Linked DNA regions of Homo sapiens: all the other regions are linked to region 1. The links come from fine-mapping of genetic effects on gene expression. A gene starts in region 1. Each other region holds a variant in brackets. All regions are shown on one strand. Distances are from middle to middle. Region 1 holds the start of ZNF623 (zinc finger protein 623). Region 2 overlaps MAFA-AS1 (MAFA antisense RNA 1). Region 3 holds the start of LOC105375799 (a long non-coding RNA gene). Region 4 has its middle 13 kb from the start of ZNF707.

Region 1 (6,073 bases):
TTATTTGATATATATATATATTTTTTGAGACAGAGTCTCACTCTGTCGCCCAGGCTGGAGTGCAGTGACACAATTTCGGCTCACTGCAATCTCCACCTCCCTGCAATCTCTGTCTCGTGGGTTCAAGCGATTCTCCTGCCTCAGCCTCCCAAGTAGCTGGGATTATGGGCGCCTGCCACCACGCCCGGCTAATTTTTTTGCATTTTTAGTACAGATGGGGTTTCACTTTGTTACCCAGGCTGGTCTCAAACTCCTGACCTCAGGTGATCCACCCACCTCGGCCTCCCAAAGTGCTGGGATTGGATTACAAGTGTGAGCCACCACGGCCGGCCAGAAACAGGGTGTTTCTGTTTACAAGAACATATCTTAAAACCATATGTGTGCCTCTTAATAATTTTCATAATTTTTTTAACTTTTGAGAAAGTTTTTTTTTTTTTTTTAAGACGGAATCTCACTCTGTCGCCCAGGCTGGAGTGCAATGGCATGGTCTCCACTCACTGCAACCTCCACCTCCCAGGTTCAAGTGATTCTCCTGCCTCAGCCTCCTGACTAGCTGGGATTACAGGGGCGTGCCACCACACCTGGCTAACTTTTGTACTTTTAGTAGAGATGGGGTTTCACCATGTTGGTCAGGCTGGTCTCGAACTCTTGACCTCATGATCTGCCCGCCTCTAGAGAAAGTTTTTAAAATTGCAAATATCTTGCTTTGAAGAAACAGTTATCTCAAAAAGGAAATAGCTATCTTCAGTTTTTGCTTAACTTTTTCTTGTATGAATTTAAGTAAAATTAAATCAATACATTTTCATTTAAAGAAACTGACATGAAATGCAAAAAAAAGGAAGCCACCTGACTTGTGGCTCCACACAACAAACTGACTAGCATGGACCCATCTCCTGTTGTAACACAGAATTTGCTGGATAAAACATCACCTGAGGCCAGGCGCGGTGGCTCACGCCTGTAATCCCAGCAGTTTGGGAAGCCGAGGTGGGCAGATCACAAGGTCAGGAGTTCAAGACCAGCCTGACCAATATGGTGAAACCTCGTCTCTACTAAAAATACAAAAATTAGCCGGACGTGGTGCCGTGTGCCTGTAGTCCCAGCAACTCAGGAGGCTAAGGCAGAAGAATCACTTGAATCCGGGAGGCAGGGGGTGCAGTGAGCCGAGATCATGCCACTGCACTCCAGCCTGGGCGACAGAGCAAGACTCCGTCTCAAAAATAAATAAATAAATAAATAAATAAATATCACTTGAAATTGTCTCAACAGCAGATGTTGTGTATCATCAGCAGCCACAGCAGCTCTGGGGTGTCTAGGGGTGTCCCATCTGGCATTAGAAGCCCCCAGCTCTTGCACCCACACTGGTAAGGGGAAATTCCAGCCTCAAGCTCCCAGCCAGAGTCACTGTGTGTTGCTTACAGCCTGAAGAAATTAACAGGATACACCAAGCTTCACCCTCAGGAAACAGGAAAAGCAGAACCAGAGGGCAACCGAGTGAGACGTGGACTAGAGCTCCACTAACATCTGGACCTCCTTGCCCCGCGCCACACCAAGGGGCCTACTGGGCGCCACAGGCTAGGCAGGGAGCGCTTCTGTTCCTAGTGCTCCCCACGATGCCCCGGAAGTTCAGGGAGGTAAGAAGCGTAAGGTCAGAGAACTGGAGCCAGCTGTCAACTGCCCCCGCCCCACCCAGGCCATTTGGCTTCTGCTACCGGCATGCTGCTCAGGGCTCTGCCCAAGGACAACGACGAGCCCCCTGTGTCCTCTCCTGGGTCATCTTCCATGACCCTGAGGCAGCGAAGACAAGCTCGGCAGCTCCCTGAGCTGCTTCACACCAACTACCTATGAGTCTGAGGCCAGCATCCAGGCGCTGCCCAGACCCTGAGAGTCCCTGGACCATGACGTAGCCTGTGTGTGAAGGGAGCAAGACAGCCTTGACAGAAGCACAGAGAACGCCACTGGGATTCTTAAAGACGCGAAGGGAAAAGGGTACCTTCAAGAAAAAGCAGGACAGCGTAGCCACACCACCTCTCCCCATCTGGGAATTCTCCAGGTCCAAGTCTTGTACTTAATTCTAATTCTGCTCATCATGTTTCCCTCCCCACCCCTATCCCCAACAGCACAGAAGATGCTGGCGCTGCATCTCCTCCAGCACCGAGAGGCCTCGAGGCCCCAGGGAGCGGAGGCAGGGTTCAGGCACAGCCGCGGGAACGCCCACACCCAGTCCTGCCACACCGTAAAACATGTCTGCGGCATCAACCTCACGCAGGCCTGGCGGACCTGAAGACTGCGACACGGACACTCAAGCCCGCGGCTCTCCGGCCTGGGCTCAGGGCGGGGGGAAGGAGAGGGAACCAGGGGTACCCACACGGCGCTCCTCAGGGACAAGACCCCAGGCTCGGGCCCGAGGCGGGCTCGCTGGAGAGACGCCGCAGCCTCGCGGGGGCGGCCGTGGCTGCGTCCGGGAGACTGACTAGCCAAGGCCCCGCTCCTGGACGCCCTAGCGGGGCGGGCAGCGGCCTGCGGACCCCGCCCGGCCCTCTCGGCGGACTGTGCCCTGGCAAGGCGGCCGGGCTCCGGAGCCAGCCGGGGCTGCGGCTAAGGCGTTGCCCGCCCCCGTCCGGAACGCGCCACTCACCCGGCGCGGGCGGGGAGAGGACGGCGCGAGCCCGACCCTGCAGCCGCTGACTGGACCCCGCCGGCGCGGGCCCCACAGATCAGCCGACAAAGCCTGCACCGCCGCCAGCCCGCCGCGACCGGAAGTCGCGAGAGGCCCCGCCTGGGAAACTTCCTGCGCCGTTCTAGGAGCGCCAGGGATCGGCTCCCCTCTCAGTGGTGCGGACTTCCGGGCCCGGGGACTAAGACCCCCGGAGGGGCCAGGGGTGTCCGGCAGGAGCGGCGTTGCTACGCGGTTGGGAGGGTTGCGGGCCGGGAAGCGCGGGCTCGGAAACTCGGGTCTGGAGCTCGCGGCGAGGTCCGACCGCAGCCCAAGACCAGCTTCTCAGGAGGCGAGGATCCAGGGGAAGTAAATACCGTGAGGGCCAAACTTCACCTCTCTGCGCCCCAGAGAAGTGGGGAAGCGGCGCGCTGTGGAGTTTTTTGGTTTTCGGGTTTTGGTTTTTTTAAGACAGGGTCTCGCTCTGTCGCCCAGGCTGCAGTGCAGTGGCGCGATCTCGGCTCACTGCAGCCCCGACCTCCCGGGCTCAGGTGGTCCTCCCATCTCGGCCTCCCAAAGTGCTGGGACCAGAGGCGCGCGCCACCGCGCCGGCTCATTGATTCTTGGTAGACATTACTCATTGCTAGAATGAGTCACAGTCCGAAATAATCGAAATAATTACATTCCCCTGCCCCCCCCCCCCACCAAAAAAACATTATATTCGTATTTTGGGTTTTCTTTTTCCATTTTTCTGCTAGCACTGAGGAAACTTGTTTACCTAAATTGTTAGATAGGATTGGGAGGAATTTTGTTTTAGCAATGACGCTCAATTTATTTTTATTTTTATTTTTTGAGATGGACTCTCGCTCTGTCACCAGGCTGGAGTGCTGGAATGCAGTGGCGTGATCTCTGCTCACTGCAACCTATGGCTCCCTGATTCAAGCGATTCTCCTGCCTCGGCCTCTGGAGTAGCTGGGATTACAGGCATGCGCCACCACGCACAGCTAATTTTTGTATTTTTAGTAGAGACAGAGTTTCACCTTGTTGGCCAGGATGGTCTTGATCTCCTGACCTCGTGATCCACCCGCCTTGGCCTCCCAAAGTGCTGGGATTACAGGCGTGAACCGCTGTTCCCAGCCGACGCTCAATTTCTTTAGCTCTTTCTGACTTATATGCAAAAAACATAACAGCAGTTTATCACCAAGTGTACTTAATGACCTGTCAGTTGACCACTTGAATAGGTCCTTTTTAAATTTTGACAGAAGCAAACAAAGAATTAGAAGTAACCTAAAGTGCAAAACTACATGAAGTCTTTCCCAGCCAATAAATTCACCTACTTTCTTAAAATCAACTGCAGAGTTTTGAATTGTCCCTTTGATGAGGAGGACAGCCCAGGTACCAAGGCCAGGTACCAGGGTGAATAAAGGAAGAGAAGCAACGTGGGAGAAGGAGCTGTGGCCAAGGGGGACACGCTAGGCGCGTGCCCTCATCCAAGGACCTTCTACAGGAATTCCAGGGCAGAATCCATGTGGAACTCCTGCTGTGATTCTCCAGGGGCTCCCCGGCTCTTGGAAAGGCTTCTGTGTTCCAGGGGTGTGTGTGAAAGCCCTACATTGAGCGACCCCACCTCTCATCCAGGCCCGGAGACCTTGGCTGCTGCAACCCTATTGCCAGCTTACCATGGGACCCAGCTCTTAAGGCGAGAAGGGCTTGAGGCCTCTTCCCCACAGGGCTTACAGACCTTTCAGCCTCCCTGTCCGCAGGCCCAAAGAGCTTGAGAACACCGCCTGAGCAGGTTGTCACAGATCAAAATCTGCCTTGTACACCTGACGCCTGCCACTTCAACCCCACCAACAGCTAACACATGGCTGCAGCTTGGCACTTAATACTTTTTTTTTTTTTTTTTTTTTGAGACAGAGTCTCTCTCTGTCACCCAGGCTGGAGTGCAGTGGCGCGATCTCGGCTCACTGCAAGCTCTGCCTCCCGGGTTTATGCCATTCTCCTGCCTCAGCCTCCCGAGTAGCTGGGACTACAGGCACCCGCCACCACGCCCGGCTAATTTTTTGTTTTTTAGTGGAGACAGGGTTTCACCATGTTAGCCAGGATGTTCTCGATCTCCTGACCTCGTGATCCACCCGCCTCGGCCTTCCAAAGTGCTGGGATTACAGGCCTGAGCCACCATGCCCGGCTGGCACTTAATACTTTGAGTTTACTTGTTTGGTACTGATTGTCCCTGCCAGTAGAAAGGAAGCTCCGTAAGGTCAGGGACCCCCGTCTCGTTCCATGTCTAGCCCAGTGCCTGGCCCATGTGGACCTCAGCAACTGTGGTGGATGCTGCGATGAGAGGCCCCGGGAGACCCCTCCAGTGACAGGCTGGGTGTCCCAGTTGTTCAGGGTGTGGTAAGCGGCCTTCAGCCATCAGCTGCAACTCGCCAGGGTCACACCCTTCCCTGGGACAGCCCACATTGCAAAGTCCTGGACATCCTGGTCCAACCGAGGACAGCCCTGAGGACCACTTCTGTGGCAGAGCTCCCTGTGGGGGACCAGTAGCCGCTGTGCTTGATGGCATCACAGCCCCACTCCTGCCTCTTGTGTCTTCCCCTCCACAGGTCCAACATCACTCCGTGAAAGTCTGCTCCCCACCTAGGAGCCCCCTCGAGCCACAGCAGCCTTGCCAGGTGACTTCTAATATTATCTCCATTTTATAGATGAGGAAACAGAAATAGGGAAACCAAATGGCTCACCTAAGGTATCAGCCAGGACATGCTGGAGGAGGCCTCAGATGTAGCCATCTGCCTCCAAAGCCCTTGACCTAGAGCAAGTACAATGCCAAAACCAAGGAGTGTGGCTGGAAGGCAAAAGGCCCGAGGGGAGGCTGCCATGCAAGATGAGGCTGGCGCTGTTGCCATAACCAGAGCTCAAGAAAGGAAAGCTGTCCAAAGAAACTGCATTCAGCCAGAAAGGGAATTTATAGGGATTTGAGGGGACGGAGCCATTCTGAAGACAAAGCAGAAATTCTGATAAAAGATCCCAAAACATAGTTTCAAGCTATCTGGGATGTGGGGTTTAGGAAAACAGGCCATGGGTGGTCTTGGTACGGGAGCAAGCACAAAACTGTCTGGGAAATGTCCCTGAGGAAGGCCACTGTGTCTTCGGGCCATGAGCAGAGCTTTCCTGCTTTGGGCGAATGGAGTCTGGGGACAAGTTGATGACAATGGAGGGCTGAAGACAGCTTGGGAATTAGTCTTTCCGAGATAACTACTGGGTGGGGCAGATTGTGTGGTCCCGGTCCAAGCCACACAGGAAGCCCACACTGGCTTCTGAGCAGGAGTGTAACAAAAGCCAGATGACACTGGAAAGACACGTTGGCTGCGTGGTGACCACAGAGGACAGGGTGAGGACGGTGGCAATGGCAGCCAC
Region 2 (6,073 bases), 220 kb after region 1:
ACAGGGGCCCACCTCCCTAAGGCTGAGGGTCCTGGCAGGTTGTCGGGGGCAGCAAAGGCTGAGACCAGGGCGAGGGCCCAGATGGTCCCGGAGAGCGTGGATGGGACGGACCTGGGGGAGACCTTTCCTGATAGGAGCTGGGAGGCGCGTGGAAAGTCGGGGCGTGAGGTGGATGCAGGTTCTGTGTTCGACCTTGATGGTGTAATCCCTGAGGGTGCACGGGGAGGGGCAGCACGGGGTGGACTTTGGGGGTGCAGCATGTGGGTCAGCAGGGAGAGCCCGAGGCTGTGGGCTGAGCCGGGGAGGGTGGAGGCCTGCGGGGTCTTGGCTGAGCCTGGCTCCTAGGGGGTCTCGAGGTGGGGGCAGGCAGCTCAGACAGGAGTACCCTCCAGGGTCCCTGAGAGGAGGCATTTGGATCCCCGGGCTCCCAGGGAGAGGGTGGCGGCCGAGGGACCCTGAATTAGGGAGTCTGGGGTGGCAGGGGAGACTGGCGGGGCAGGGCCAGCCAGGGCCCGGGAAGTGGGACCGGTGCTCAGAGGACTCGGAAGTTGTGGGGGAGGAGGCAGGGCCTGGGAGAGGGTCTGAGGCGGGAGGCTGGCCCAGGAGGAGGGGAAACCGCTTCCTCACCTGGGAGGCGGAGGAGGTGGGGGATGGGGGAAGGGAGTGTACCCCGAATCAGGAGGTGGCAGGAAGGTGGGAGTGGCTTGGAGCCCACACCCTCGACCCCCACACACAGTCGGCAGTCCGCATGGGGAGCAGTGACAGAGGAATTTGCGGCTGGCGGGCTCAGCGCCTGCCTAATTTGCAGTGACACCGCTCAGCTGCCCAGGGCTCCAGCTGTCACAGCCAATTAGCCCGCGGCCGGGGAGGAGCGCCGGGCAGGGGGGCGGGGGGGCATGAAGGGGTCGGCGGGGGAGGCTGTGGGGGTTGCAGGAGGGGTAGGCGCAGGAGGAGGCCTGTGGCCTTCAGGTCCGGCCCGCCCCCCCAGGCACCCCAACCTGGCTGTGGAGAGCAGCAAGGTGGGGTGCCCCCCAACAGCAGCCCACCAGGCCTGAAGCCCCTCAGCCGCAGCCCTTGCTGCCCCTTTCAACCCTGGCATTCCCCTGAGCCTTGCCACCTCTTCCATGCCGGCCTCTGGGACTCCAGTGCCCTTGACCCCTGGCACCCGAGTTAGGTGTCCTGAGGGCAGCTGGGATCAGTTCCAGCCTGGAGGATAATTCCTCTCCACATTCAGGCCACCGCCTTCCCAGACAGAGCCACCTTGGCCCCTGACTTGCGTCTGTGGCCCAGCCCCTCCCTCCCATGTGGCGGGCTCCGCCCTGGGGCCTCCCCGACTCCACTGCACCTCCCGGCACCCACTCAGCGTGGTCTAGCTCGCAGGGGATGGCCCCTTTGCCTCCCTCCCACCCAGTCCTCAGAGGCTGACACAGGGAGGTATCTGGAACATGCCAGGCGCCAGCCCCATGGGCCTTGATCGCCTCCCCGGAGCAGCCTGGGAGCAGCAGTGAGCGTGCAGGCAGGGTGCTGGGCACAGAAGAGTCCCAGGCTGCTGGCGGGGCCCCGCGGGACTCTAGGGGACTCTGGCTTCTCTAGGAAGGAGGGTCCCGGAGTCCCTTCTCCTGCAGCACCCTTGCTCCCGTCTCCTGGCTGGGACCCAGGTGTCTGGTCACCTCCCCCAGAGGGGTGGGTCTCAGGGACAAGCCATGTCCTCCGGGAAGCCACATGCCCTGGGTGGCCCCTCTCCAGCCGCCGCCTCTGCCCAGCTCTTGGTACAGATGCCCCAGGGGAGCTGATGCCCTGGGGGAGGGGCGTAGCCCACGGCTCCTCTGCGACAAGGGAGTTTCAAACACAGGGGCCCTGGCTGGGCCCACCCCACCCATCCCCAGCTTCTCCCTGCAGCCTCTGGTCTCCTCTCTTCAACCCCAAGGCTGCCCCTCCGCACAGAAGCCGCCCATGGCTGTCCCGGCCCTCCAGCCCACCCTCCTGAGGGATCTGCCCGCCTCCCACCCCCGGCCTCAGCACTCCTGGTGTGCTCCTCCTCACGGGAAGCCCTCTGCCGACCCCACAGCCCCCTTCGTCCCGGAGCACGGAGCACGGAGCACGGCTCGCCTGTCTCAGAAGCGTTAGGCCCCGCAGGCGCCTGGCCCGGCCTCGGCTCCAGCTCCACCCTCTCTACTGGGGCCCTGCCGTTGCCCCTGCTCCCCCGGCCGGGCGGGGGTCTCCTGCCCATTTGCTGCAGTGCTGGGGAGGGGCTGTGCTTTGCCGAGCGGGGCACTGGCGGTGCAGCAGAGGCGTCAAGAGGCGGCACCTGTAGACACGCAGTCGCGGTGTGTGAGACGCGCGGGCTGGGGCGCGGCAGGACGCAGGGCAGCGGTGCTGGGACCATTACCCCAGCGTGGTGGCGCGGGCGCCGCAATCCCGGGCGGCACGAGGCTCAGGTATGGGAAGAGAGACGGGAAGATGAATTGCAGACTAAGCCAGAGGGTGGCCAGGAAATCGGGAGAGGAAAAGGGCGGGGAGGGAGGGGGAAGAGCCCGCCGGGCCTCCAGGAGGCCTCGCCTGCCCGTAGGTGGCTGGGCCTGTGTGTATAAAGTCGGGGCTGGAGCGGCTGCAGGGGAGCAGCCGTGAAATGGGGGCAGGGAGGGCGGCGAGGAACTGGGGACAGATCCTGGGGCCACTGTGGGGGCAGCAGGGGCCCCTGCTTCTGTGTAGAGAGGATCGTGGGGGCACAGGCGGGAGCTGCCACAGTCCAGGGAGGTCGCTGGCCCGGCCCCTCACCCTTCTGTTCCTGCTGGCGGTTCCCTGCAGAGATGGTTCCTCACCCACCGTCTCTGCCCTCTGGGTCCTGGGCGTATCGCATGGGGGACGGGACACTCTGTCCGCCTTGTGCCCTGCCTGGGCCCGCTGCCCTATGGAAGAGCAGGAGGCCGGCACGGGTGCCTCCGAAGGGCAGCCTCGCAGCACATCTGAGGGTGCTTGGTGCACCGCCCTGGCACCACCATACCTGAGAGCTCAGGAGGTGCGGGTGGTGCGGAGGGCTCGCGCGGGGGTGGCTCTGCGAGTCTGGGAGGAAGGCTCTGGTCTCCTCCTCACCTTGTCCACGCGTCTTCTCTGGAGCAGGGTGGGGGCTGCCATCGCCTTGGAGGCGGGTCAGGCGGTGGGGCGTGGGTGGAGACGGGGCCTTGGACCTCGTCACTGGCCTTGGTTAGGTCAGGTGGGCACCTCCCCAGCCCCCCGGCCCAGTCACCAGGCCACCCCCGCCATGGTGGCAGAGGGGCTGGACTGGAGTCGGCCTGACCTCTGCCCTTCCCCAGCTGGAGGTAGAGCGGGGGCCGTCTCTCAGGGCTCAATCACCTCATCTGTAAGAAGACGCT[C/GAGTTCTCCCCTGCTC]CTCCCATCGGCCATCCACACAGGGGCCTCATGAGCAGTAAAGAGAGGGACCCGTTCAGCAAGCCCTTCGTCAATCTGAGAAGGCTTCTTGGAAGAGGGGGCTCTGTTCCGAGGGGAGGGCGTGGAGTGGGATGTGCCTCTCCAGGTGCACCGGGGCGGGATTTACAGGGGTGCCCCCAATCCAAGACCGGAGATGTCTTGGCCACGTCTGTGGGGCTTGCAGAGGGGCCTGGGGGAACAGAGCTTGGCTCCTGGCAGGAGGGGAGCAGGGAAGGAGCAGGCATGGGAGGGGCACCCAGAGCTGCCATCCATGGGGGGTCCCCAGCTCAGCCCAGCTCAGCTCCCAGAAGGCTTTCCTCCCCCTACTCAGCCGCAGTGCGCTGCCCATCACTGCAGTCCCCACTCCTCCTTTTCAAACCCCTCATCCGCTGGGTCTGTCCCCTCACCCTCCCTTCCACAGCCCTTCCCAGAAGGTAAAACCCAGCCCTGCCCAGACCTGTGTACTAGGGACAGAACAGCCCCAACTCCTCCCACTTTCTGCTGAATTTGGGGAGCTGACTTAAGCTGAGTTCAGAAACTCTGGGGCCCTGGACAGGGCGCTTAGGGCCACGTTGAGGTTACGATCAGGAAGGTATGACGTTCAGCATTCTCCAAAAGAGAATTATTTCTGCAGGAATTCATGTGACAAGCCCAGACACACTCCTGGCTCCCGCTGTCTAGCACTCTTTAGCCATTAAATCTTACCCACCCACATACACGTAAATAACATTTAAAACGCACTATATAATAATGAATACAAAATATGTTGTCTAATCATTCTTACCTGGAAAGACCTTTATGGAAAATTCCAGGGCCAGGCTGAGCTGCTGCCCACACCCACAGGCTAGCAGAATCCAAGAGGGACAGTGTGGGGGCGGGAGGGCCACACGGACCCCTTCCTTCCCCCAGACCTCCTTTCTTGGTGACAGGGAGAAGGAGCAAGGTGAGGAGGCTTCTCCACCGTGAGTCTCAGACGGAGAGCTGTGCCCTCATTCACCTTTGGAACCTCTGACCTGAGGCACCTTGAGACGCAATAATATTAATACCTTAACTGCAAGACTCCGCGACTCACAGAGAGATGTAAGTGCAGGTAACAGAGAGCTGAAGGAACAATGACTCCAACAAATTCAATGGAAATTTAATTTCTATGTTGTAAAAGTCCAGAAGCTGATGGCCCAGGGTGGCCGTGGTGACTGCTTCACAGAACGCTCTGGATTGAGGCTCTTTTCATCTTGGCCTGTACTCCCAGGGTCTCCTGGCCCACAATGTCAGCTTCCACTCCAACCATCACATCTGCATTTGAAGATGAAGAAAGGTGAAAGAGGTAAAAACAAAAGGAGCATATGAGGTGATGGGTGGATGAACGGACAGACAGCTGGACGTGTGACAAGAAAGATGAGGAAGACAGCAGGATGGGTAGGAACGGGAGGATAGTGGCTGGATGGAAGGATATATGGATGGTTGATGGTGGGTGAATAAATGGTGTGTAGATGGGTGAACAGGTGGGTGAGTGGATACGTGGATGGTCAGTTGGGTGGATGGATGGGTGGATGGGTGGATGGATGGATGGGATGGTGGGGGAATGGGGAGATGGGCAGATGAGTGGGTGGATGATGGGTGGGTGGATGGATGGAAGGGTGCGTGGGTGAGTGGGTAGATGGGTGAGTGGTTGGGTAGGTGAGTGGGTAGATGGATGGATGGGAGGATGAGGCATGGGGGAATGGGGGATGGGTGGGAGTGGGTGAGTGGGAGGAGGGTGAATGAATGGATGGGCGGGTAAGTTGGTGAGTGGGTGGGTGAGTAGGGGGTATGGGGGTGAGTGGGAAGATGAGTGGGTGGGTGGGGGGGTATGGGGAAGAGTGGATGAGTGAGTGGATGGGTGGGTAGGGGGTTAGAGAGTCAGTGGATGAGTGGGTGGGTGGGTGGGGGTTGGAGGGTGGGAGGATGAGTGGGTGGGTGGCTGGGTAGGGGGTTGGAGGGTGTGTGGGAGGATGAGTGGGTGGGTGGGGGGTAGGGGGCTGAAGGGTGGGTGGGAGGATGGGTGAGTGTGTGGGTAGGGGGTTGGAGGGTGGGAGGATGAGTGGGTGGGTGGGTAGGGGGTTGGCAGGTGGGTGGGAGGATGGGTGGGTGGGGGGTTGGGGGTGAGTTGGTGGGTGGATGGGTGGGTAGGGGGATGGGGTTGCCTGGGTGGGTGGTTTAGGAAGCTGTGGAATGACTCCAAACGTGGAGTGAGGGAGCTCAGTTTGTACCACCGAACCTTTGCTCATCTCTCCCCTGGGCCCTCTTCCCTCTTCTCTCCAGAGCCCTCCTCAAATCTCACACCTCCATTTTCAAGAAGCTGGCCTCACCCATGCAGCCTCTGTAGCTCTCCTTCCCCTCCAAGCTTGTTTCTCTCGGCGCTGCCACCGTCGGATTCCTGTGCTGGTTCTTGCTGGTTTTCTTCACCTCCTGACCACCAGAACACTGGCGCCGGGAGGGCAGGGTCCGTGTGTTTCCACGGTTGATTTCCTAGAGGCTGCAGCAGCGCCTGGCACCGAGGAGGTGCTCCATCAATATTTGTTGAAAAGAAAGAAAAGGAAAGCAGGATGGAGATGGACTGACCCTGCCCAGCACCCCTGTCCAGCCCCTGCCCAGCACCCCTGTCCAGCCCCTGCCCAGCA
Region 3 (6,073 bases), 30 kb before region 1:
GAGTTCCCAAGGAAGGAGAAAATGTGAAAGATGGCCTCCTCCCCAAGGCTGGGGCTCAAATCTTGGAAAAGGTGTGGTTGCAGAGATGCTGTTTGGTGCAGTATGGATGATGGAGAGGTTCTCTGGTTTTCCCGTAGCCAGAGCTGGTCCACAGTCAATGGGCAATCACTCCTGCAGGTGTAGAGGGGTTGAAGGTGGCAGGTAGGGAGCCTGGCCAGGACTGGCAAGCAGGAAACACCTCTCTGGGGCAGGCTGAGGCTGGATGCTGACCAGTGGAGCATCTGCAAGACTCACGGGGATCCACCCATGGCATTGCAAGTGAAGTTGGCTGGGGGTGAGCAACACTGAGTGTGCTGGCAGCCACATGGCAGGAACAAGAAGAAAACAGAAGAAAGTGCAGAACAGGAAGAGAAGCACTTTCCTCCTGCAGGGTCCCTCCAGTGCCCTCTACTTACAAAGCTTAACGTCATACCTGCTTTAAAGGAGAAACAATTTAGGGCCCAGCTCCATTTTCACCAAGCAGGCGATGAAGTATGTATTTGAAGCTGAAAGACAGTAAATGGAGAATTGGCAGTTTCAAGCCTCAGTTGGGCCCTTGGTTTTCTCAGTACTCACTCTGTGCCTCCCAACAACTAATCTTCTTTCTGATTCTCCAAGTAGCTCTTTCAACACTCCGTAAAAATCCTATCCACCATCTTTCTTCCCACTTGGAAGAAAACCTTGCCTTTTTTTTTTTTTTGACAGGGTCTCACTCTGTCATTCAGGCTGGAGAGCAGTGGTGCGATCTTGGCTCACTGCAACCTCATCCTCCTGGGCTCAAGAAATCCTCCCACCTCAGCTGCTTGAGTAGCTGAGACAACAGGTGCATGCCGCCACGTCTGGCTAATTTTTGTATTTTTTGTGGACACGAGATTTTGCCATGTTGGCCAGGCTGGTGTCAAACTCCTGGGCATCTGCCTGCCTCAGCCTTCCAAAGTGCCAGGATTATAGACCTGAGCCACCAAGCCTGGATCTTGTCTCTTATTTTACAGGGAAAATACATAATAATGTGTGTTTGATTACAATTGAATAATGCAGGCTTTGGGAAATCCACCTGTTATGGGTTGATTTGTTTCCCCCCAAATTGAAATGCTGAACCTAATGCCCGGTACCTGAGAATGTGATTGGATTTGGAGATAGGGCCTCTAAAGAGGTAGTAAAGTTAAAATGGGGCCTTTGGGTGGGCCCTAACCTGATCTGACTAGGGTCCTTCTAAGAGGAGGAAATTTGGATGCACAGAGAGACATGGGATGTGTGTTTGCACAGAGGGAGGGAGGGCCTTGCGGGGACACAGCATGGGATGTGTGTGCACATGGAGGGAGGTAGGGCCTCGAGGGGACACAGCATGGGATGTATGTGCACATGGAGGAAGGAGGGAGGGCCACGCATGGACACAGCGTGGGATGTACATGCACACGGAGGAGGGAGGGCCACGTAGGGACACAGGATGGGATATGTGTGCACATGGAGGGAAGGAAGGCCTCACGGGGACACAGGATGGGATGTGTGTGCACACGGAGGGAGGGAGGCCACGCATGGACACAGCATGGGATGTGTGTGCACACAGAGGAGGGAGGGGCACGCAGGGACACAGGATGGGATGTGTGTGCACACGGAGGGAGGGAGGCCACGCATGGACACAGCATGGGATGTGTGTGCACACAGAGGAGGGAGGCCACGCGGGGACACAGGATGGGATGTGTGTGCACACAGAGGAGGGAGGGGCACGCAGGGATACAGCATGGGATGTGTGTGCACACGGAGGAGGGAGGGGCACGCAGGGACACAGGATGGGATGTGTGTGCACACAGAGGAGGGAGGGGCACGCAGGGACACAGGATGGGATGTGTGTGCACACGGAGAGAGGGAGGCCACGCATGGACACAGCATGGGATGTGTGTGCACACAGAGGAGGGAGGGGCACGCAGGGACACAGGATGGGATGTGTGTGCACACGGAGGGAGGGAGGCCACGCAGGGATACAGCATGGGATGTGTGTGCACACGGAGGAGGGAGGGAGGCCACACAAGGACACAGCAAGAAGGCGGCCATCGGCAAGCCAAGGAGAGGAGCCTCCGGCAAAACCCAACCTGGGACACTTTAGTCTCTTCTGGCTTCCGGAACTGTGAGAGAATAATTAATTTCTGTTGTTAAGTAACCTACTCTGCAGTATTTTTAATGGCACCCTGGTGTAACTAACATACTACTGGTGTTGGAGTATTTTATAACTTGTGGAGGCCATGGAAGCATCCCCCGCGCTGTCAGGGAGGCAGAATGTCCTGTGAAAGGAACAAAATCACTTTGGACACACCTGGCAACTGGGCAAAACCTCAACTGGTTCCTTGATCAACAGAGTGAGTCTTGTAGTGGGAAAATCAAAGTGGAAGCTCCTGCAACTCTACCCTCTGTGGAGAATGGCAGGCGTTAAGGCCACCTGTGAAGACGTAAAAGATCCGCACTCGCCTTGCTCCCATCCCCCTCGTCCCCAGGCTCCTCGTCCCAGTGCCCCTAGTCCCTGTGCCCCTCGTCCCCACCCACCTTCTTCCTGTCCCTTGTCCCCACCCACCTCATCCCCATCCCCCTTGTTTCTGTCCCCCTCATC[C/T]CCGCCCACCTTATCCCCATCCCTCTCATCCCCATCCCCCTTGTCCTCATCCTTCTTGTCCCCGTCCCCTTATCCACCTTGTTCCTGTCCCCTTAATTCACATCCCCCTTTACCCTGCCCTCCTTGTCCCCATCCCCCTTATCCCTGTCCCTCTTGTCCCCACCCGCCTTGTTCCATCCCCCTCATCCCCATTCCCCTTGTCCCCATACACTCCCTTGTCCCTGTCCCTCTTGTTCTTGTCCCCCTTGTCCCCATCTGCCTGTCCCCACCCGCCTTACAATCTGGAAACCCAACCCCTGCGGAAGCTGCATGACCGTGGTGGACAGCAGTGGACTACCACAGGCTTAAACAGTAGTAGCTGAGGCACGCTTGTGGCCATCCACATGGTCTTTCCAGAAGAGACTGATGTGGCCACGTGCATGTGGTTTTTGGCTACTGGTCTGATAAACACATCATTTCCGAAACCTGTTTGGAAGGGGAATCGGAGCAGTTCCTGCCCACGCGGGGCCAACAGCGGCACACAGGTACGGTCGCTCCAGAACCGAGTGGGGTGCCTCGTCCCAACATGGCCCAAAGGCCTGACCCACTGGATGGTCCACGAGCAAAGGTTGGCCCATTCAGTGGATGCCTTAATGGGCACTGGACTCATGCAGAGATAGCAGGTGCGCTGATGGCCTCAGAAAAACACGGGCGCTGTGGAGGGCAGGAGGCAGACTCCGTACACTTCAGAGACCTGCCCCATGAGCAATGTTCTCAGGGTGCGGTGGCCTGTAGGGTGCTGGGGCAGGCCCGATGCCTCTTTGGGCTTGAAGGCAATATGTTCTGCCCTTGGCGGGGGAGAGGGAAAGCCGTCGGCTCTGAGTGGGGTCTGGAGCAAGGGAAGGGGCTGAGGCAGGCCCAGGCTGGGTGACAGGCAGTCCTGCCACGTGGGTCATGTGGCCGTGAAGTTCCCACAGGCTTCACATGTGTGGCAAAGACACGAGTGGCGCCCATGACGAGCCTCAGTGCAGGATGTGCAGCCCAGGCCCAAGGCCACCGGCGCAGGGCCCCGTCATGTTCAGGGGACTCCACCAGCTGGTAGGTGGTGCGGGCAAGTGTTCGGGCCCTGACCGTGGAGGCCACGGTGTTTATGAGACTGGCGCTGCCCATCGTGACTGGGTGCTGTCGGAGCTACCAGTCGCACATCCAAGGGGCCGTCAGGAGTTTACTGGGAGATGGAAGTGGAGTCCAAGATTGGGCTTGGGCAGGTCCAGAAGGCACAAGGATGGCCCAGGTCCCCGTGCCACCCTCTATTCTCCACTGGGCCTCTCCCCAAGCCCATGCCTGTGGCTCCATGGGGAGGTCCCCGAGCCCTGCTGCAGGAGACGGGTAGTCTCGTACCTGGCTTACGGGGGGGCCCGGTGTGCTCTGTGGCCCTCCAGTCAGAGCAGGGCTCCTGCAGCAAGGCAGTCGGTGAAATGCAGCTCCAGCCCACCTCACAGTGGCCCAGTGGGTCCCTGAACCCAAAAGGCAACACTAGAGCTCCACAGCCTAGAAGCCGCACACCGCAGCGCGCCGTCTTCACCCTTCCTTGGCTATGAGCTCTTCCAGGCAGCACAAAGCACAGGGAAATGCCCCAGGGTGACGATGTGACTGCTTGCAGCCTGCTTTCAAAAAGAACGCCAGGAACACAGGCAGGAAAGGTGGGCAGGAGAGAGAATGAGACTGATAGCCACCAGGTAGCTGACTCCAAATTAATAGGATTGTCAACTCCTTACCAATTTATATTTACCGGTTACATAAAAAATGGTACAGTGACCTCCCCTTCCAGCCATGATTAACAAGTATTGGACTTGCCCTCCTGCCCTAAACTAGAAAGCTGGACAAAATCCATGCAACAGCTGCTGTTAGATGTTGGAGGGTGCAGTGCTGTGACCTGCCCAGGAGGATGGAGATGGGGGGGGCACCTCCCATGATGCCAGCTCTCTGCCTGGTGGCATTTTCTAGAATACAGCATATGAAGGGGAAACACAGGCATGGTATCAACTCACTAAGTTGAGGAGGCAGAGGTTGGACTCTGGGGAGGTACAGAAGGCTCGCATTTATGGGGTCCAGTACGAGAAAGAAACTGGGACCCATGAAGAGGAAGTCCCCAGTGCTGCCATGAGTGTTTGGATGAACGTTAAGCTGCACACACCATGGGGCCAGGCCACAAGCCACGGGGAGCTGACAGCAGACAATCCCCAAATAGCTTGCAGGCCTGGGAGGTGCTCAAAGTGTGATGAGCCAGAGTGGTGGGCCTTGCTGCCCAGTGGCGGCACTCAGTGAGAACTGCGAAGGGTCCAGCCCTACCAGGAGCACGGCTAACCTGGAGTAAAGGCCGCTGTAGACCAGCCTCAGCCAAGCTCAGAAACAAGCCTCAAAGGACTAAGCTGATCTACAGTCATTAAGCTGCCTGCAAAAAAATTCAATAATTTTGAAAGGAAGACAAATTTCAGACCCTCAACAATGTAACATTCACAATATCTATCAAAAAAATTACTAAACACACAGAGGTGAAAATGTCACCCATAGCCAAGAGAAACATCCATCAGCTGGAGAACATCCAGGCCGGGTGTGGTGGCTCATGCCTGTCATCCCAGCACTTCGGGAGGCTGGGTGTGCAGATCACTTGAGGTCAGGAATTTGAGGCCAGCCTGGTCAACATGACAAAACCCCATCTCTACTAAAAATACAAAAATTAGCCGGGCGTGGTGGCGTGCATTTGTAGTCCCAGCTACTCGGGAGGCTGAGGCAGGAGAATCGCTTGAACCTGAGAGGCAGAGGTTGCAGTGAGCTGAGATCGCGCCACTGCACTCCAGCCTGGGTGACAGAGTGAGACTCCATCTCAAACAAAACAAAACAAAACCCTGAAGAACATCCAGACATGATAAAGATGGTGGAATTAGCAGATAAGAACTTTTAAAAAGCCAAATGAGTAATTTCACAGGTTTAAAGGAAAACGTGGTAATGAGGAAAGGAATGAAAGGTATAAAGAAGAATCCAGTAGAACTTCTACAGCTGAAAAACCTACATCTGAAATGAAAAGTTCAATGGTGGAATGAACATGAGACCACAAAGGCTTCTGAACCTAAGGTGACCTTTTAGAAATAAAAACAAAACAAAATAAACAAACAAAAAAGACCTCAAAGGCAAAAGAAAAGGTCAATGGACTTGAAGACAAACCCACAGAACATGCCCACATTGCAGCACAGCGAGCGAAGGGGCAGGAAGGCACCAGCAAACAGGGCCACAGTGCCCCGAAGGCGAGCGAAGGGGCAGGAAGGCACCAGCAAACAGGGCCACAGTGCCCCGAAGGCGAGCGAAGGGGCAGGAAGGCACCAGCAAACAGGGCCACAGTGCCCCGAAGGCAAGTGAAGAAGGAGCAGGAAGGCACCAGCAAACAGGGCCACA
Region 4 (6,073 bases), 36 kb before region 1:
CTGTTTTAAGTTGTTTCTGTTTTGTGTTTGTTTTGTTATTTTAATTGTTTGCCATCCTAATGGGTGTGAGGTGGTATCTCATTGTGGCTTTGATTTGCAGTTCTCTAAGAATGAGTGGTGTGAACATCCTCTCATGTGCTTATTGGGCCATTCTTTTCTTTACTTTTTTTTTTTTTTTTTTGAGACGGAGTCTCACTTTGTCGCCCAGGCTGGAGTACAGTGGCGTGATCTCAGCTCACTACAACTTCCACCTCCTGGGTTCAAGCAATTCTCCTGCCTCAGCCTCCCGAGTAGCTGGGATTACAGGCACCCACCACCACGCCCCGCTAATTTCGTATTTTTAGTAGAGACAAGGGTTTATCCATGTTGGTCAGGCTGGTCTCGAACTCCCAACCTCAGGTGATCCGCCCACCTTGGCCTCCCAAAGTGCTAGGATTAGAGGTGTGAGCTACCACGCCCAGCCTATTGGGCCATTCTTGGGAGAGAGGTCTAATTAGTCCTTTGCCTATTTTTGAATCAGGTTGTTTTTGGGGAGTCGTTTTCTGGAGTGTTCCATGGTAAGTAGGTCTATGTAAACCTGTCTCCAAAGTCCGAGGAAGCTGAGAGGTCAAAGAAAAAGGCTAACAAACCCAGTTTCTTAGAAAGAAACACTTAACAGGGACTTAGAAAAAGAAGCCATGTCTGTCTTGGCAGCGGCAAGAGGAGATACTGGATCCCACCATTGCCCCCGCCCAGGGCTTGTGTACCACGGGGAGGGTTGGGAGGGAAGTGCAGGACAATGGGCGGCATCAGGGCCGTCTGACCCTGCGGCAGGGTTTATAGCAAGTGCCTGCCCTTACACAAGGAACAACAGATCACCTGGAAACGTCGGAGGCCTTCCCTGGACGGGTTAGTCGAAAGCCCACACAATAGTCACCATCCAGGCTGGAGCGGCTTTGGCCTCCACAAGGAGTTCCTTCGATATTTTGGATATGAGTCCCTCATCGGACACGTGATTTGCAGATATTCTCCCGTTCTGTGGGGAAGGGGCAGCTTTTCACTCTTTTAGGAGTGTCCTTTGATGAACAAAAGGCTTTAATTTTCACGAAGCCATTTGGCTGTTTGTTGTTGTTGCCTGTACCTTTGGTGTCCAAGGAATCATTGCCAAACCCAGTGTGTGTCAAAAGCTTCTGCTCCCAGTTTCTAACAAGAGTTTACTGTTTCAGGTCTTGCATCCAGATCTTTGATCCATTTTTACTTTTTATTTTACTTTATTTACTTATTTTTTTGAGACAGTCTTGCTCTGTTGCCCAGGCTGGAGTGCAGTGGCGTGATCTCGGCTCACTGCAACCTCTGCCTCCCGGGTTTAAGGGATTCTCCCACCTCGGTCTCCCAAGTAGCTGGGATTTCAGGTGTGCACCACCACACCTGGCTAATTTTTTTTTGTATTTTTAGTAGAGACAGGGTTTCACCATGTTGGCCAGGCTGGTCTCGAACTCCCGACCTCAGGTGATCCACTCTCCTCAGCCTCCCAAAGTGCTGGGATTACAGGTACAAGCGGTGCAAGCCACGGTGCCCAGCATGATCCATTTCTAGTTAATTTTTGTATGTGGTACTGACGAGGGTCCAACTTCATTCTCTTGCATGTATCACACTTTCCCAGCAACAGCCACTGTAACCTCTACCTCGTGGGCTGAAGCCATCCTCCCGCCTGAGCCCACCACGTAGCTGGGCCTGCAGGAGTGCATCACCACACCTGGCTAACTTTTCAAAATTTTTTGTAGAGACAGGTCTCAATATGGTGCCCAGGCTGATCTGAAATTCCTGACCTCAAGCAATCCTCCAACCTTGGCCTCCCCAAGTGCTGGGATTACAGGCATGAGCCATGGTGCACCCTGGCCCCACCAGGAGATTGTATATCCATGGGTACTGGTGACACTGGGCCTCAATAGAACAATTCCATATATACTGTATATGATTCCATTCACAGGACATTCTTGAAAAGATGGAATTACAGAAATGGGCCAGGCACTGTGGCTCATGCCTGTAATCCCAGCACTTTGGGAGGCTAAGCGAGGTAGGCGGATCACCTGAGGTCAGGAGTTCCAGACCAGCCTGGCCAACATGGTGAAACCTCGTCTCTACTAAGAATACAAAAATTAGCCAGGCATGGTGCATGCCTGTAATCCCAGCTACTTGGGAGGCTTGGGAAAATCTCTTGAACCTGAAAGGTGGAGGTTGCAGTGAGCTAAGATCGCGCCACTGCACTCCAGCCTGGGCAACAGAACAAGACTGTCAAAAAAAAAGAAAGAAAAGAAAAAGAAAGAAAGAGAGAAAGAGAGAGGGGAGGGAAGGAAGGAAGGAAGGGAGGAAGGAAGGAGAAAAAAAGAAAAGAAAAGGAAAGGACAAGAAAAGAAAAAAGAATTACAGAAATGGACAGAACAGATGAATGGTTGCCAGCCCTGAAGGAGGGTTGGAGGGAGGGAGTGGGTGTGGCTGTGGAAGGGTGAGGACCATATCCTGACTCTGTGAACATCAATACCCCAGCTGTGTGCACTGCAGGGTTCCAGGTGCTACCACTGAGGGAGGTAAAGGGTGCCCAGCATCTCTCTGTAAAACACCTTACAGCTGCATGCAAATCTAAAATTATCACAAAAAGCTTAATTAAAAATAAATAAACGTGTTCCTGCCTAGCTGCCTGGTCTAATTAAATTAGGGTGGGTGCA[T/C]GTGGGACCTGGCTGCCGCAAGTGACGCCAGTCCATAACCGGGGCTGACACCATTGCCTCTGGGGTCCCCACCAGGTCCCCCGCCCTGCGCAAGGCACAGGTTACCTTTACTGCTAAGGTTCTAACTATGTGAACCCCTTCTAAAGGGCGAGCCAGGGAGAGAGGCCCCAGAGGGCCGGCACTCTCCCGAAACCAGCTAGGAGAGGATGCGGACACCACACAGAAGGCCCATCGCACCCCTTTGGTAAACCGTAAGTCTCATAATCCCAGCAGTTCAGGAGGCCGAGGTGGGTGGATCACCTGAGGTCAGGAGTTCAAGACCACCCTGGCCAACATGGTGAAATCCTGTCTCTACTAAAAATACAAAAATTCGTCGGGCATGGTGGCGTGCACCTGTAATCACAGCTACTCAGGAGGCTGAGGCAGGAGAATCGCTTCAACCCAGGAGGCAGAGGTTGCAGTGAGCCGAGATCTCACCACTGCACTCCAGCCTGAGTGACAAGAGTGAAACTCTGTCTCAAAAAAAAAAAAACCCTTAACTAATGGGTACAAAAAAATTAGAAAGAATAAGACCTAGTATTTGATAGCACAACAGGGTGACTATATTCAATAATAATTTAATTGTACATTTTAAAGTAACAGAGTATAATCGGATTGTTTGTAACGCAAAGGATAAATGCTTGAGGGGATGGATACCCCACTATCCATGATGTGACTATTACACTTTGCACGCCTGTATCAAAACGTATACCCCATGGGAGGCTGAGGCAGGTGGATCACTTGAGGCCCGGAGTTCGAGACCAGCCTGGCCAACATGATGAAACCCCGTCTGTACTAAAAATGCAAAAATTAGCCAAGTGTGGCGGTGCTCGTCTGTAGTCCCAGCTACTCGGGGGCTGAGGCAGGAGAATCACTTGAACCTGAGAGGCGGAGCTTGCAGTGGACTGAAATCACGCCACTGCACTCCGGCCTGGGTGACAGAGTGAGACTCTGTCTCAAAAAAAAAAAAAAAAGAAACAAAAACATGTACCCCATAAATACGTACGCCTACTATGTGCCCACAAAAATTCAAAACAACGCAAAACAAAACCTCTTAACACCAAATCCTAAAACTCTTAGTCTTCATATTTGATTTCTTTTTTTGAGGCAAGGGCTTGCTCTGTTGCCCAGGCTGGGGTGCAGCAGCCCGACACAGCTCACTGCAGCCTAGACTTCCTGTTGTCCAGGCTGGTATCAAACTCCTAGACTCAAGCAATCATCCCACCTCAGCCTTCTGAAGTGCTGGGATTATAGATGTGAACCACTCCAACCCCATATTTGATTTTTGTACAGCAACAGTTCCCAGATATAAAAACAGGCTAACCATGATGGCTCACAGCTTTAATACTAGTGCTTTAGGAGACTGAGGCAGGAGGATCATTTGAAGCCAGGAGTTAGTTTGACACTTGCCTGGTCAACATAGTGAGACTTCATTTCTACAAGAAATTTTTTTAAAATTAGCCAGGTGTGGCCAGGCGCAGTGGCTCACTCCTGTAATCCCAGCGCTTTGGGAGGCTGAGGCAGGTGGATCACCTGAGGACAGGAGTTCAAGACCAGCCTGGCCAATATGGTGAAACCCTGTCTCTACTAAAAATAAAAAATTAGCTGGGCGTGGTGGCAGGCGCCTGTAGTCCCAGCTACTCGGGAAACTGAGACAGGAGAATCTCTTGAACACGGGAGGCAGAGGTTGCAGTAAGCAAAGATTGTACCACTGCATTCCAGCCTGGGAGGTTGCAGTCAGCTGAGATCACACCACTGCACTCCAGCCTTGGCAACAGAGTGAGACTCCATCTAAAAAAAAAAAAACACAAACAAACGAAAAAAAGAAAAACAATTAGCCAGGTATAGCATTCCTGTAGTCCTAGCTCTTCAGGAGTGATATGGTTTGGGTCTGTGTCCCCACCCAAATCCCATGTCAACTGTCATCCTCAATGCTGGAGGTGGGGTCTGGTGGGAGGTGATTGGATCATGTGGGCGGATTTCCCACTTGGTGCCCTTCTGGTGATAGTGAGTTCTCTTGAGATCTGGTCTGTTAAAAGTATGTGGCACCCCAGCCTCGGCATCGTCTGGGAAGTGAGGGGCACCTCTGCCCGGGTACCCCCACTGTCTGGGAAGTGAGGAGCGTCTCTGCCCGGGTCCCCCGACTGTCTAGGAAGTGAGGAGCGCCTTTGCCCGGCTGCTGTGCAACCCTCCAAATGTGAAGTGATAGCCTTGTGTGTAATCTTTCTACCTGCCCCAAGTTTGCATTTTCAACATTAAAGTTTACTTTTTAACTAAAAGTTTTAAATTGGAGAATTAAAAAAAAAAAAGTATGTGGCACCTCCCCACTCCTCTCCTCCTCCTGCTCTGGCCATGGAAAACGTGCCCACTTCCTGGGATTACAGGTGTGAGCCACCACACCTGGCAGGAAGTTTTGAAGTAGACTCGACATAATTGGATTTACATTTGTTAGATACAGTGAGTTCCTCTTCAAAGGTTCCACTTTACAGCAAACAACCTTCCAGCCACTCCCAATCTATAACCCAATCTGTAACCCACATCTGTTCCCAATCTGCAGCCCAATCTGTAAAACCCACATCTGTTCCCAATCTGCAGCCCAACCTGTAAAACCCACATCTGTTCCCAATCTGCAGCCCAACCTGTAAAACCCACATCTGTTCCCAATCTGCAGCCCAACCTGTAAAACCCACATCTGTTCCTTATTTGGCCACTGTAGCCGCCCCTGATCCATTTGAAGTAGCCAATGGGGATCGGCTTAGATGGTGTGGTGCGACTCCAGCCAATGGGGACTGGACACAGTAGCAGGGCGTGACTGCTTTAGGGATAAACACCCCTGCCCTGCTTTGTTCGGTGTGCTCTCCCAGTGGCCAGAAGAGAGAGCGGCACTCTTCTGCAGAAGTAAATTTGCCTTGCTGAGAAGGCAAATTTGTGAGCACTCAAAAAAAAGCCAGTGGAAGTTTTTTTTTGTTTGTATTTTGAGATGGAGTTTTGTTCTTGTTGCCCAGGCTGGAGTGCAGTAACACAGTCTTGGCCCACTGCAACCTCTGCCTCCCAGGTTCAAGCGATTCTCCTGCCTCAGCCTCCTGAGTAGCTGGGATTACAGGTGTCTACCACCAGCCCTGGCTAATTTTTTGTGTGTGTTTTTAGTATTTGAGTGCTCATTTTCTTTTTTTTTTTTTCTTTCTTTTCTTTTTTTTTTTTTTCAGACAGAGTCTTGCTCTGTTGCCCAGGCTGGAGTGCAGTGGTGCAATCTCAGGTCACTGCAAGCTCCGCCTCCTGGGTTCACGCCATTCTCCTGCCTCAGCCTCCCGAGTAACTGGGACTACAGG

What was found. PIP is the estimated chance that this variant, and not a neighbour inherited with it, causes the effect. A credible set is the group of variants that fine-mapping cannot tell apart.
Region 2: its variant is the best candidate, but not a certain one, in a credible set for the expression of ZNF623 in prefrontal cortex (GTEx, PIP 0.61).
Region 3: its variant is the best candidate, but not a certain one, in a credible set for the expression of ZNF623 in anterior cingulate cortex (GTEx, PIP 0.67).
Region 4: its variant is the best candidate, but not a certain one, in a credible set for the expression of ZNF623 in putamen (GTEx, PIP 0.50).

What each region holds. Positions count from the first base shown.
Region 1 is chr8:143,632,708-143,638,780 of GRCh38, reverse strand. It overlaps ZNF623 (zinc finger protein 623), which reads right to left and starts at 2,762. Exons shown (of 2, transcript NM_001261843.2): 1 at 2,636-2,762. LOC105375798 (a long non-coding RNA gene) reads left to right here and starts at 4,877. Exons shown (of 3, transcript NR_188083.1): 1 at 4,877-5,331.
Region 2 is chr8:143,417,608-143,423,680 of GRCh38, reverse strand. It overlaps MAFA-AS1 (MAFA antisense RNA 1), which reads right to left. Exons shown (of 3, transcript NR_186795.1): 2 at 5,762-5,940; 3 at 4,531-4,706. Among named protein-coding and RNA genes, the nearest start is that of MAFA, 10 kb to the left of the region's middle. RefSeq lists an enhancer at 601-1,188. The variant C/GAGTTCTCCCCTGCTC (reference allele first, on the strand shown) is at 3,375.
Region 3 is chr8:143,662,317-143,668,389 of GRCh38, reverse strand. LOC105375799 (a long non-coding RNA gene) reads right to left here and starts at 5,272. Exons shown (of 4, transcript XR_928737.3): 1 at 4,022-5,272; 2 at 2,351-2,473; 3 at 473-545; 4 at 1-171. The variant C/T (reference allele first, on the strand shown) is at 2,642.
Region 4 is chr8:143,668,821-143,674,893 of GRCh38, reverse strand. No RefSeq gene overlaps it. Among named protein-coding and RNA genes, the nearest start is that of ZNF707, 13 kb to the left of the region's middle. RefSeq lists enhancers at 4,847-5,347, 5,348-5,848. The variant T/C (reference allele first, on the strand shown) is at 2,706.